Linked DNA regions of Homo sapiens. The protein of the gene in region 1 purifies or fractionates together with the protein of each later gene. This does not show direct contact. Each region holds a gene or a part of one and is shown in the gene's direction. Other genes may lie near its edges.

Evidence for each region. The genes of interacting proteins can lie anywhere in the genome.
Region 2: the proteins of TMED5 (region 1) and LONP2 purify together in Homo sapiens (co-immunoprecipitation; one large-scale study listed by IntAct). This does not show direct contact.

Annotation. Positions count from the first base shown.
Region 1 is NC_000001.11:93,173,867-93,177,524, reverse strand, and holds part of TMED5 (transmembrane emp24 domain-containing protein 5 isoform 1 precursor), read left to right. Parts: intron 1-3,658. UniProt on the Homo sapiens protein: Potential role in vesicular protein trafficking, mainly in the early secretory pathway. Required for the maintenance of the Golgi apparatus; involved in protein exchange between Golgi stacks during assembly.
Region 2 is NC_000016.10:48,247,169-48,250,826, forward strand, and holds part of LONP2 (lon protease homolog 2, peroxisomal), read left to right. Parts: intron 1-145; exon of another isoform or gene 146-371; intron 372-3,658. UniProt on the Homo sapiens protein: ATP-dependent serine protease that mediates the selective degradation of misfolded and unassembled polypeptides in the peroxisomal matrix.

The DNA of each region.
Region 1 (3,658 bases):
GCCCACAGCAACCTTCATCTCCCGAGTTCAAGTGATTCTCCCGCCTCAGCTTCCCGAGTAGCTGGATTACAGGCATGTGCCACCACACCCAGCTAATTTTTGTATTTTTAGTAGAGACGGGGTTTCACTATGTTGGCCAGACTGGTCCCAAACTCCTGATCTCAAGTGATCTGCCAGCCTCAGCCTCCAAAGTGCTGGGATTATAGGTGTGAGCCACCGCGCCCGGCTGGGACTATTCCTTTAAAACATTCTCCCTAAACAATTTGTTTTGATTAAGGAAAGAGGTAAAATCATTTGTCTGTAATCCTAGACAGTGTTGGTGAGATGTGTAGGGTAACTATCATCTTCCACCCTGTTTGTATTTCCCAACTTGTTTAATTTCCCAGTAACTACATCCTACTAATTTTTGTCTTAAAGTTAGTTTTTAAAATTTTATAGAACAATCTAGTTTTGTCCTTGGTTACTTATTGAAAATTTTACTAATTTCTTACTTTTTAGGTTTTAGGAGAATACTTTTTGGATAATTGACTAGCCTCACATTATATTGATAGAGGTTCTTGAAAACTTTAATGCCAATTCATGTATCTTATGACTAAAATAGATAATCCATTTAGAAATTTAAGTCATTCTTGCGTGCTTGATATGTGTCAGCACTATCCAAGTTGCTAGGGATACAATGGTGAGTGAAAATATCAGCTAGGTGCAGTGGCTCACACCTGTAATCCCAACAGTTTGGGAGGCCAAGGTGGGAGGATCACTCAAGCACAGGCGTTTCACACCAGCCTGGACAACATAGCAAGACCCCATCTCTACCAAAAATAAAGTTAGCCAGGCATGGTAGCACACACTTGTGGTTCCAGCTACTTGGGAGGCTGAGGTGGGAGGATCACTTGAGCCCAGGAGGTTGAGGCTATGGTGAGCTGTGATCACACCACTGTACTCCAGCCTCGGTGACAAGAGCGAGACCCTGCCTCAAAAAAATATATATATATATGTTTGTGTGTGTGTGTGTGTGTATAGTCTGTGCCCTCATACAATCAAGTATTAATTAATCAAATTATTACACAAATACATGTCAAAATATTTACTAGGGGTAATGAAGGTAAGTTCATAAGACTATGAGTGGGCTCAGTAGGAGGACTTCATTTTATCTGGAAATTGAAAGACATCCAGAAGTAGAGTTAAGATCTACAGAATTATCAGACTTTCACTAGGCATAATGGAATGAGTGGTACGAGACAATGGGTAAAAAAGAACAACAACGTGCCAAGATACTAAGGAAGAAGAGAGAAAGATACCTTTGAGGTCCTGAAAGATAGGATACAGAGAGAGAAAAGTGGTACAAGTCTACTTTAGAGAAGTCAGTAGCAACAGCAACCAAATCATTGTGGGCTTTTAGGTCCTTGTTAAGGATATGGGTCTTTTGCAGAGACCAGTAATACGCCACTGAATAGTTATAAGCAGGTTAACTCGATCTGTGTTTTTTAAAAGATCGTTTTGGCCACAAGGTATTGAGCCTCTCTGTACCAGTTTCTATACTTTAACAGTAATCACCTGCTCCCCACTATATATTATTGTGAAGAATAAATATGCTAATACATGTAAAAGGAATGGTATCTAGCACCAAATAAGCACTCAAAAAATGTTAGCTAGAAAATAAACCCTGAGCCTAGAACAACAATACTTTTTTAAGGGCATAATAGGCACTAAAAAGTATCTATTGAATGAGTGAACCAGACGTTTACCAAACATGTAAAACTATCTGGGTGAGTTTTTGGGAGAATATAGCTATATCAATTTTTAAAAATTTTTATTAGTCTTTCATTTTTGTATAGAGCCAAATTTCAATATTTTCTGGTAAACTGGCCATTTCATCTAATTTTTAAAATTTACTTGTATAATATACCTGATGCCATTTGGAATATCTCCTATTTCCATTTTATCTACAGGTATACATGCCTAATATTACATGTATAAAGTAGATAGGACTACTTTATTGATCTTTGGGAAAAAATGTCTTTTGAGTATTTATTATTTTTTGTTTTATATACATACACACACATATCTATTATATATACACACATTTTATACATATACAAAATATATAATATATTCATATACATATAAATGTATATGTATATATAAATATGTATATAAAAAAACAAAAACTCAAAAGCCATATATGTGTGTGTGTGTGTGTGTGTGTGTATATATATATATATATAGGCATAAGGGAGTAAGTGGAACAAGACAATGGATTAGAAGGCACAACATGTGCCAAGATACTAAGGAAGAAGAGTGAAAGATACCTTTGAGGTCCATTTATATATATATATATATATATATATAAATGGCTTTTAAGTATTATATAAATATATATATATAAATGGCTGGGTTTTGGGGAGAATAATATATTTAATAATTTAATATATATATTTGGGTTTTATGTGAGTCTGTGTGTGTGTATATATACTTTTTTTTTTTTTTTAAGAGATAGGGTCTCCAGCAATCCCATTACTGGGTACACACCCAGAGGAATATAAATCATTCTACCATAAAGACACATGCATGCGAATGTTCAGTGCAACACTATTCACAATAGCAAAGACATGGAATCAACTAAATGCCCAGCAATGACAGTTTGGATAAAGAAAATGTGGTACATATACACCATGAAATACTATGCAGCCATAAAAAAGAATGAGATCATGTCTTTTGTGGGAATATGGGTTGAGCTGGAGGCTATTATCCTTAGCAAACTAACACAGAAACAGAAAACTAAATACCACGTGTTCTCACTTAGAAGTGAGAGCTAAATGGTAAGAACTTATGAACACAAAGACGGAAACAACAGACACTGGGATTTACTTGAGGAGGGAGGGTGGAAGGACAGAGAGGCACAGAAAAGTTAACTATTGGGTACTGGGCTTTATATCTGGGTGATGAAATACTAAGTTGGTGCAAAAATAATTGTGGTTTTTAACACGTTTACCTATGTAACCTTCACATGTATCCCCAAGCCTAAAATAAAAGTTAAAAAAAAGAGAGATATGGGGTCTCACTATGTTGCCTAGGCTGAATTTGAATTTGGGCACAAGTGATACTCCCACTTCAACCAGCCTCCTGGGTAGCTGGGACTACAGGCACATGCCACCACACCTGTCTCCTTTATGAATTTTTTTACTTCCAATTATAAAAGTAATATACAACCTCCTTAGAGTAAGTCAAACAATACAAAGATGTAAAAGCAAAAAAAGCTGGGTGCGGTGGCTCACACCTGTAATCCCAGCATTTTGGGAGGCCAAAGTGGGTGGATCACGAGGTCAGGAGTTGGAGACCAGCCTGACCAACATGGTGAAACACCATCTCTTAAAAAAAAAGAAAAAACAAAAAACAAAAATTAGCTGGGCGCAGTGGTGCGCGCCTGTAGTCCCAGCTACTCGGGAGGCTGAGGCAGGAGAATCACTTGAACCCGGAAAGCAGAGATTGCAGTGAGCCGAGATCGTGCTGCTGCACTCCAGCCTGGGTGACAGAGTGAGACTCCATCTCAAAAAAAAAACAAAAAAAAACCTCTTTGTAACTCTATTGAATGCCTGTTGTCATTCTCCTAGATGTGAACTCTTCCACACCTTTTCCCATACTCATAAAAACATATAGG
Region 2 (3,658 bases), on another chromosome or scaffold:
GTTTCCAATGTCTTTTTTTCTCTAATAGGGCCTTTAAAACACTCTACTTAAAAAAAAAAAAAAAAAAAGGCTTTAACAATACCAATACTGAGTAATCCATAGCATTAGCCTGTTTCCACGCACAAGTCTGTCCTTCCCCAGTTACCTGCTTTTCTGTATGGTAGCCCAGAGGCCAGAAGAGGGGCTCTGTTCCTTTCTCTTGTTTCCTTTGCGCTATCCAGGTGACGCTGGCACAGCCTTCAAAGAGCAGCAGAAGTAATTTGCTCCCAGCGTTCTTTGCCACACAGAGTGGCAGGATTAGATGTTGACTTACCTCTGCCACTTCCTTGGTGGTTTTGAGTAGTACAGTCCCTTTCTGCACGTTAGTGTGCAGGCATGTTGCCTGCAGGAGCCTTTTTAAAGGAGGAGCTTTGGACTTGTCCTGCAGTATAGAACTTGGCTGGCATGCTGACCCAGGGCACCCTGCATTTTTCTGCTTAGTAGAACTGCATTTTTAGTGCTTCCTGAGTGACCCATTGTTTTCTTAGTGAAAAGGGGTCATAATTTAGTACTACCTGTACAATATCCTTTCAAGCATTTCAAGATGGTCATCCAGCTTTCTTCCAAATTTACACTTTTCAGGGTACATGGCTTCATTTCCTCATAGTGCCGACTTCTCAGTCTCCCTCACCAGGCTGGTGTCAAACTTGTGAGCTCAAGTGATCCTCCTGCCTCTGTCTCCCAAAGTGTTAGGATTACAGGCGTGAGCCACCATGCCTGGCCTATGTTTATAATTCTTGTAGGTAGAAGTGGTACCTATTGTCCATTGTAATGAGAAAAAAGTAAAATTTGTCTTAAAATATAATTAAGGAACTCAATTTATTAAATTTAAATTTATCCTTTAAATTTTAAATTTAAATTTATTTCTTAAATTTATTTCTATTACATTTTCTTGTAACCATGTACACCTAAGTTGTTCTACTTTAATTTTTTTGAGACAGGGTCTCACTCTGTCACCCATGCTGGTGCAGTGGTGCCATCTCAGCTCACTGCAACCTTTGCCTCCCAGGTTCAAGTGATCCTCTCACCTCAGCCTCCTGAGTGTCTGGGATTACAGGCATGTGCCACAATGCCTAGCTATTTTTTTTTTTTTTTTTTGGTGGAGACGGGGTTTTGCCATGTTGCGCAAACTGGTTTCGAACTCCTGAGCCCAAGTGATCCACTTGCCTCGGCCTCCCAAAGTGCTGGGATTATAGGTGTGAGCCACCATGCCATGTTCTACCTTTTTGAATCTCATTTACTCACTTGTAATAAGGAAATAATACTACCTTCTTCATGGGGTGAAGGGAGGTATAAAATGAAGTATACATATGAAAGCCTTTTGAAACTGCAAAGCATTCTAAACCTATATCCAAATGGGTAGTTTTAAATGTAGATTTTCACAAAAGGGGATTAAAGAGAGGAGTGGGGAGGCCCCATATTATTCCAACACGGGCTGAACTGAACTAACATCATTGCAGGAAGGTCTTGGAAGATTAAAGATTCCAAGAAAAATTAAGGGCTTTGAGTAAAAAAATTTTTTAAAAGTGGCTGGGCCTGGTGGCACGTGCCTGTACTCCCATCTACTCATGATGCTGAGGCGGAGGATTACTTGAGCCCAGGTGATCGAAGCTGCAGTGAGCTATAATCGTACCACTGCACTCCAGCCTGGGTGACAGAGCAAGATTCTGTCTATAGGAAAAAAAAAAAAAAAAAAAGCAAGTGCTGGGCATATAGGCTGGAATTAGATATTTACATAATATCCTCATCTTGGAAAACTTTTTCCAGTAGTGCTGCTTTTAGATTTTCCCACTACTGCAGTTGATGGTTCTTAAATATGTTTGGAACTCTTATATTATTTAGGTCAGTTTCCAAATTACACAAATTGTAACCATTGTAGTCAGACCTCACTTGAATGAAAACAATATTTTACAAACTCTGAGGGTAGATTCGAGTTAGGATTTGGATTAAAACATTATCTTAAAACCTCTGAGGGTAGATTCGAGTTAGGAGTTTCAAAACTTCTTTGAACAATATCATAATTAGGATGTAGATTTACAGAGCTACTAGCTAAAGGGAAGGACACCAGTCATTGGGATGTATAAGTTTGGATCTGTTGCAAAATTAAAATGCTGCCTTTTGAGCATGCCTAATAATGCACATACAATAGAAGAGCCAGAATTTTTAGAAAAATGACTGACTTGATATACAACCTTTTGTATATCATAGAAGGAAAATATTAGTTGAGTATTTTGTTTATTTACCTGTTTGTATATATAAAACCTGGGGCCCAATATACAATAGATTCTTTTTCACTATGCTTTTCACCCACAGTGTCTCACCAGGTACTCTGTTTCTAGCCATCTATAATTTCATAGATGTTTTTCTTTAAAAGGGATGTATTCTAGGCTGGGCGAGGTGGGTCTTGCCTGTAATCCTAGCACTTTGGGAGGCCAAGATGGGAGGATTGCTTGAGGCCAGTAGTTGGAGATCAGCCTGGTCAACATCATGAGATCCCATCTCTGTTAAAAAAAGAAAAAAAAATTTTTTTAAAGGGATAATTTCTAGTCAACTATAAGTGATTTTAAGTAAAAAGCAATTAAGGCATGTATACATCTGTACCTTTTGTAGGCATAGTATAAATTCAGCTTAATCTCTTCAGTTTGGAACATCTTCCTTTCACAGCAAAAATATTGTATTTGCTTTATAAGAAAACCCCTTTTGGCCAGGTGTGGTGGCTCACGCCCGTAATCCTAGCACTTTGGGAGGCTGAGGTGGGTGGATTACCTTAGGTCAGGAGTTCGAGACCAGCCTGGCCAACATAGTGAAACCCTGTCTCTACTAAAAATACAAAAATTAGCTGGGCGTGGTGGTGTGTGCCTGTAATCCCAGCTAGTTGGGAGGCTGAGGCACGAGAATCCCTTGAACCCAGGAGGCAGAGTGCAATAAGCCGAGATCACGCCATTGTACGTCAGGCTGGGCGACAGGGTGAGACTCCCTCTAAAAAACAAACAAAAAAACCACAGTGGCTCACACCTGTAATCCCAGCACTTTGGGAGGCCAAGGTGGGCGAATCATGAGGTCAAGAGATCGAGATCATCCTGGCCAACATGGTGAAACCTCATCTCTACAAAAAATACAAAAAATTAGCTGGGCGTGGTGGTGTGTGCCTGTAGTCCCAGCTACTTGGGAGGCTGAGGCAGGAGAATCACTTGAATCTGGGAGACGGAGGTTGCAGTGAGCCAAGATTAGGCTACTGCGCTCCAGCCTGGTGACAAAGTGAGACTCCGTCTCAAAAAAAAAAAACAAAAAACAAAAAACAACTCTTTAGCATCACCTTTTAGCAATGACATAGCCCAAATAATTAAATTTGTCTCCTGATCGGAGATTTGGATTTGTCTCATCTCTCTTTCTGGTTCCTCCTTGGTTTCTACTTTGTAAACCCTTTAGGCCGGGGATCCAGTTTCTTGTCTGTGGATGTTTTATATACAAACAGGACTGTGAGCTCTTTCAGCATTGTACAAACAGTGATGAATATCATCTGCAATTAATTATGTTTAAGTTATTCTCTAATCAGTTTAGAGGTGGCTCACTTCCTCAGGCAATCTGAGTGGGCTTTCAGGAAGTGGGAAATATTATC